2 separate regions of the Homo sapiens genome follow, and region 1 is linked to region 2. Evidence: fine-mapped expression QTL. A gene starts in region 2. The other region holds a variant in brackets. All regions are shown on one strand. Distances are between the middles of the regions. Region 1 overlaps ABLIM3 (actin binding LIM protein family member 3). Region 2 holds the start of ABLIM3 (actin binding LIM protein family member 3).

Evidence for each region. PIP is the estimated chance that this variant, and not a neighbour inherited with it, causes the effect.
Region 1: its variant is fine-mapped to the expression of ABLIM3 in putamen (GTEx, PIP 0.90).

The regions. Positions count from the first base shown.
Region 1 is chr5:149,220,274-149,223,183 of GRCh38, forward strand. All of the region lies in intron 8 of ABLIM3 (actin binding LIM protein family member 3), which reads left to right. Among named protein-coding and RNA genes, the nearest start is that of AFAP1L1, 50 kb to the right of the region's middle. The variant A/G (reference allele first, on the strand shown) is at 1,407.
Region 2 is chr5:149,140,248-149,143,157 of GRCh38, forward strand. ABLIM3 (actin binding LIM protein family member 3) reads left to right here and starts at 1,246. Exons shown (of 24, transcript NM_014945.5): 1 at 1,246-1,407; 2 at 1,762-1,861. The coding sequence starts at 1,849. LOC124901102 (a long non-coding RNA gene) reads left to right here and starts at 1,869. Exons shown (of 2, transcript XR_007058988.1): 1 at 1,869-2,542. RefSeq lists a silencer at 1,112-1,361 and enhancers at 1,667-2,168, 2,169-2,668.

The DNA.
Region 1 (2,910 bases), 80 kb after region 2:
GGTGCTAAAAGAGTTAAGCAAGGAAGTAAAGTGCATAGCTTTGTGATCCTGAGAGAGAATGCACCATTAAACCTACAGTGGAAATGCCTCCAAGGGTGGGAGATATTCTTAGTAATGAAGATGAGCCTGTCACCTTCTCATTAATTATCCCCATCCCTCTCCTGGCTCCTGGGAGAGTGGGAGTAATTGCAGGGCATTCAAGGACCTGCCTGAAAGGATGCTAAGTGATCCTGGAATGAGGGGGACCAGGCCAAGCAGTGCTAGAGTCACGCTCACTTGGGCTGTGAGTGTCTTGTGGGGGTTCTGCTACCACTGAGATCTGGGCCTTGGACACCCTCACCAAGTGGGGACACCAGGATTCAATATGATATCCCCCAGAATTGGCAAGAAAACCCTGCTCCTGGGTAGCTCAGGAGTGTAAAGAAGTGGCTGAGAGCCAGGACTCCCGGGTTCAAGCGTCAGCAATTCCACTAATAGGCTGTGACCTTGAGAAGTGGCTTCCTTCTCTGGATCTCTTGCTTCACCTGTAAAATGAGGATAACATCATCGTCTTTCATTGATCCACTCAAACTGGGGGCCACGCTATGTGCCAGGCTCTCTGCTACATGTTGGGCATTCAGAGATGAGTGAGGCAAGCATGCTTGCTGTCCTGGTGGAGTTCACTCTCTGGAAAGAGAAACCAACAGTGCCAAATAGAAGTGTAAACATTCAATGACAAGCTGTGACAAGTGCTGCACAGAGAAAGTTTTGAACAATGGGCATGTGTTATAAAGCCCCTGCTCTAGTCTGGGAAGCCAGGGAAGGTGCCCCTAAAAAGGGATATTTCAAGCCAAGACCTTGAAAATGAGTAGGAGGTGGGAGGCTGAAAAGGGCAGGAAGATTGAGGAGGCAGTGAGAACAGTGAGTGCAAAGGCCCTCCCTGGGTGGGTGGAAGCAGAACGAGGTGGAGAAACTGAGGCAGGCCCACTTACCTGGCACACAGAGAGCAACCATATGCCACAAGGTCCTCATGAACATTAGAGGAGAGAGTGAATGTGAAGGCACTGGGGACTCCATAAAGCAACTTATATAAGAGAGAGAGAGTGTTGGGATGCCTGCAAAGCTTACAAACCCAGCCTTGTCAGTTCTGGAGCTGGACACAGCATGGTACTGGCAAATGGTCCTTGGGAGATTCTTTGGGTGAGTTTGTTTGTGTTTTAATTGCTATGTGATGGCTTTCTGATGGGCTCTAATTGGGAGAAGTCTGACGTCTGTCTGGAGGAGAACTTCTGGGGCCCCAGGAGACAAGAGCAAGTTTTATTTGTTTTAAGTTCTGTTGTGTATTCAATCTTTTAACTGTGTTTGTAAAGATGCCAAATATCTAATCTGTTTGTTATCCAAACCCTTCATTTGGGCTTCACCAGGAA[A/G]TTAGGTCACTCATTTTGTGCAGCAAAATAATGGCCAAAATGCTGCAGGTTCAGGGCAAAACTTATACTGAAATCCCAAAGGTTGCAGTTACTAGATCAGTGAGAGTTTTTTTAAAATCCCAAATGTGGTTCATGAGACAAATTTTGCTCTTGTTCTAAATGTGCCTGTACCCAGGAAAAGGGAGAAAATAGACTCTTCTTCTACCCTTCTGTCTACACCAAATACCCTCCTGTTCTAAGACCTGAGACAATAACCCTGGAATTACGTAAGTTCAGCTGCACATTTTAAAACAATTCGCTGTTATCATTTGTATATTTAACTAAAACCCACAAGGCAGGAAATCATTTATAAAATACTGGACAAACCTCACTCTGCTAAAGAAAAGTATTATAACAAATTATAGGTCTCACCAATAATAATGATAATAATAAAAATATTAATAATAATAAAATGCCATCATTTTATTATTATTATTAATAATATAATTATTATTTGTTGGTATACTTTGAGCATTTACTATGTGCCAAGTACTGTACTAAGAGTTTGAAACACAGTATCCCATTTTATCCTCACGACAACCCTGTCAGCTAAAAACTATTAATGTCCTCATTTTAGAGGATGAGAATGAAAGTTTCAAGAGCATACGCCACTTAGCCAAAGTGGGCCTGTCTTGCTAGGGTTCTTGGAGGCAATTTTCTTACATCTATATTACCAGAATTCTTAAACTGGTTCATGGTCAGCCTTTTGAACTCTATGAGTCTTCTGAAATTGCTTGCTAAATTTTGCATGCTAGGTGTGTTTCTTTAGGCAGAGGGTCCATAGCTTTCATCAGATTTTCAGAGGTGTCCATGGGCCAAAATAAAGTGAAGAGACTTGGTTCTGTGTTAACACAAATCCGAAACGGAGTCTCAAAAGCTTGTTTTGATAATTACACCAAACCCCAAACCCTTCTCTTGTGTAACTGAATCTATTTCAGATTACTTTTTTTTTTTTTTTTTTTTTTTTAGCTCAGAGGATACAAGGTCCTGGTTTCAGGAGCTGTGTATTTCTGGCATGGCTGGGTTGTAACTCAGAAAAGGTGCACTAAGCTGAGAGATGTTCAAGTGAGGGCCTCCCATTGTTATGGGTTGTGGAACGCCAGCCCTCAGTCATCATCTACGCATTTCATGAAACCACCCTCTAAAAGGCACTACTGTAGTATTGGTTGCTATAATTTCGTAGTTTAGCATTATTACTTTAAATTGGATCTCTCTACTGACAGCTTAGGTTGTAGGAGTTATGCTTAAAAACTTTAAATCTTATGTTTCCCCAATCCTACTACCTAATTTTAGATTTTTCAGACATATTCTGTTACTGTACTAAATTGATACTTCCTGAAGTCTGACTCTACTAAGCATATTTCATTTTAAATAGAGTATATTTTAATTTTTGGCGAGCTGCCATTTTTTTTTTTATTTAGATTTTAAGGGTTACCAAGCATCTTGAATCATATAGAAAGTATTA
Region 2 (2,910 bases):
TTTGTCTTTCCCCAATTTTAATAGGGCAGCTATCTAATCTCACACTGATATCCCAGACTTTAGTGCACTGAGCCACTCTCACACAGGATCAAGCTAGAAGTGAGAAGATCTGGTCCGATTCTGCCACAAGATGCTGTGTGTCTTAGGGCACGTTGCCCAGCCTCTCTGACACCCTGTTTCCTTGTCTAAGCTGGGGCTGTGAGTGTTCACAGCCTTTTGAGTCTGCACATGCTCTAATTGAAGTCATGCTATAGACAAGGATCATGTGCCCTCACAGTCTTGTTTTTCAGCACTCAAAAGTCATGCTTCTATGATCATGAATTAGGTTCAGAAAGTGACAGAGTAAGTAGTCACAGGAATGTAAAGAGCCCTACCCCACTGAATCAATTGTGACTAAAACACTTTGGAATATAAACTTCTACAATACACACGTATAAGACATAATTACAAAAAAAAAAAAAAAAACAACAACAACTTGGGGGAAGAGTTAGTTGACCATATGAAAACTAGGGTGGACCTGTGAGGCCACATACCTGCTGTTCTCCTCAGACGGGGAAGTGTTTCAGGGTGGGGCGCCTAGGCAGTCTACTCTTAGGGCTGTGTAATATTAAACCCAGAAAATGTCTGGGTTGCTCTGTCAACAAATATTTATTGGTAGCCACTATATGCCGGGCCCTGTGCTAGGTATTGGGGGCCTGTAGGTGAACCCTACGGACAGACCCATTCTTTCACGGAGCTAACATTCTCGTGGGGAAAAGAGGTAATAAACAATTCTAATGATGAATCAGCGATAGAGGATAAAGGGAATCTGTGAGGGAAGAGGGGACATAAACGCTGGGAGGCTGGAAGAGCCCCTTACGTGTTATCCACTTGTCCAGACGCCATATTCATAGTTGAGAAAGATGAGGCAGAGACGGTAGTGACCGGCTTGAGCCTAGACTGCGCCAAGCTTGCCAGAGCAGAGCCGGGTGGAAACTGTCTTCCTGCAAAGCCAGGTTTTCCTTCACGGCCCCTCCTAATGATGTTTCTTTTCCTATCATTGTCGAGCCCTTAGAACCCCAGGATCGAGGGAGGGAAAACAAGCGCTCAAGCACTCCCTCGTTGGTCCCAGGACACAAGGCCTCGTCCATCTCACAAGGCCTCGTCCATCTCCCATCACACCCTAGGGCCCAGGCAGAAGCCCGGCGGGGCGGGGCCTCGGACACGCGCCGGTGCGTCCAGCAGGTGGCAGCAGCGAGCGGCCGCGCCCCCTGCGCTGCCAACCCGCGAGCCCGCATCATGGATGTCGAGCTCCCCTATTTCGCATTGCTAGCCCTGGAATTCGAGACCCCAGACGAGGACCAGGATTCATGAAATCAGTCGCAGGGGCCGGGGCAGGGGCCTCTGGCTCCCGACACTGGCCGAGAGGTGGGTTCCGGGGCGGGTCGCTGCTCCTTGAAGCCGGGCGGGGACGCGCTGCCCCCGCCCTGCCTCCCTGTGGTCCACACCCCCTTTGGGCTCCGGAGCCGCTGGGCAGGAATAGTCCGGGGTGCGCGCGAGCAGGCGCTGCCAACCCCACTTCTGCCCGGGATTCCAATCTGAGGAGCAGGAGGACCGGGGCGCCGGTGTCCTGCCGCCTCCTTCTCCTTGCTCTCACCTGCGCCTATTAGTCCACGCGCCTTCAAGGCCAGGGGCTACAGCCCAGACAGAGAGGGGACAGCAGAGGGAGAGAGAGCACCTGAGGATACAGAGCTGGCACTGGACTGCCTTTTCACCCCCCAGGTGATGAGTGAGGTTCGAAGAACGGAAGATTTAAAAAGCAGCCGGGGCCTCCGTATTGAATGAAAGACCCAGTGCAAAGACATCACCATGAACACTAGCAGTAAGTGGATCCTCCTCTCCTTTGCCATGGGAACAGGGGTGGGGGCGGGAGGTGAGGGAGCCTGCGCTCGGGCTGCCTGGAAAGAGGAAGGAAGCCTGGCATCTCTGGACACATGACCCCCAGGCTCTTTTTTGGTGCTTTCCGTGCTCCTTGGCAGAGGGATAGCTTCATGACTCTGGCTTTTCGTGATAATTTTGCCAATATTTTATCAGCGGCGCCGGCCGCCTCTCCTGGGAAGGCTGCTCGTCTCCTTCTAGCACTGCCTGGGAAGGCCTAGGAAGCAGTGTGTGGCCATTGTCTGACTGTGGGGGCTCTGAGGAGAACTCCCTGCACACATCTGGAAAACCATGGAGGGCCCTGCCTGTCCCAGAGGTGGGAAGAGCAGGGAGGCTGGCCTGTGGGCAGGCGGGAGGGTAGGTGGGTGTGGGCAGGCAGTGGGCTGGGAAGCCGCAGTTTGATAAACAAATAATCGCCAAGCCACCTTTGGGTCTGGAGATTGTGAAAGATCCAGCTCCCGAGTGCCTGCAGCCCGGTGGGCCCAGGGCTGGTTTCTCTATGTACCTGCAGGCTGGTTAGCTATCCTTGAGAACAAGAAGACAGGAACAGCCCTTTGGCCAAGGGCTCTAACATGCCAGAGGCAACAACTGCTTGCAGAGCCAGGACCAGATATTTTGCTGCCAGGTAGGGCCTCAGCTACTGAGAATGCAGTCCGAAATTCAAGAAGGCACAGTCTGTTTCTCTTCAATGTAGCGCTGTGACCTGGGAGGGCATATCTTGGTTCCAGACTCACTCTCCTGCCCTCTTGTCAGCTTGGCCTGTCTAGGTTATTCCAGCATCGCATAGGGCTGTTGAACCAGAGAACCCCTATGAACAGTCACTTCCCTGGGTCTATGACTTTGTTATCAGTCCCCTCTCTGCATCTCAGACTGCTCATCTGTATGATGAGAGGGGTTGAATTAGAAAGCCTTCTAATCGGCCAGGCACCGTGTTCCATGCCTGTAATCCCAGCACTTTGGGAGGCAGAGGCAGGTGGATCACGAGGTCAGGAG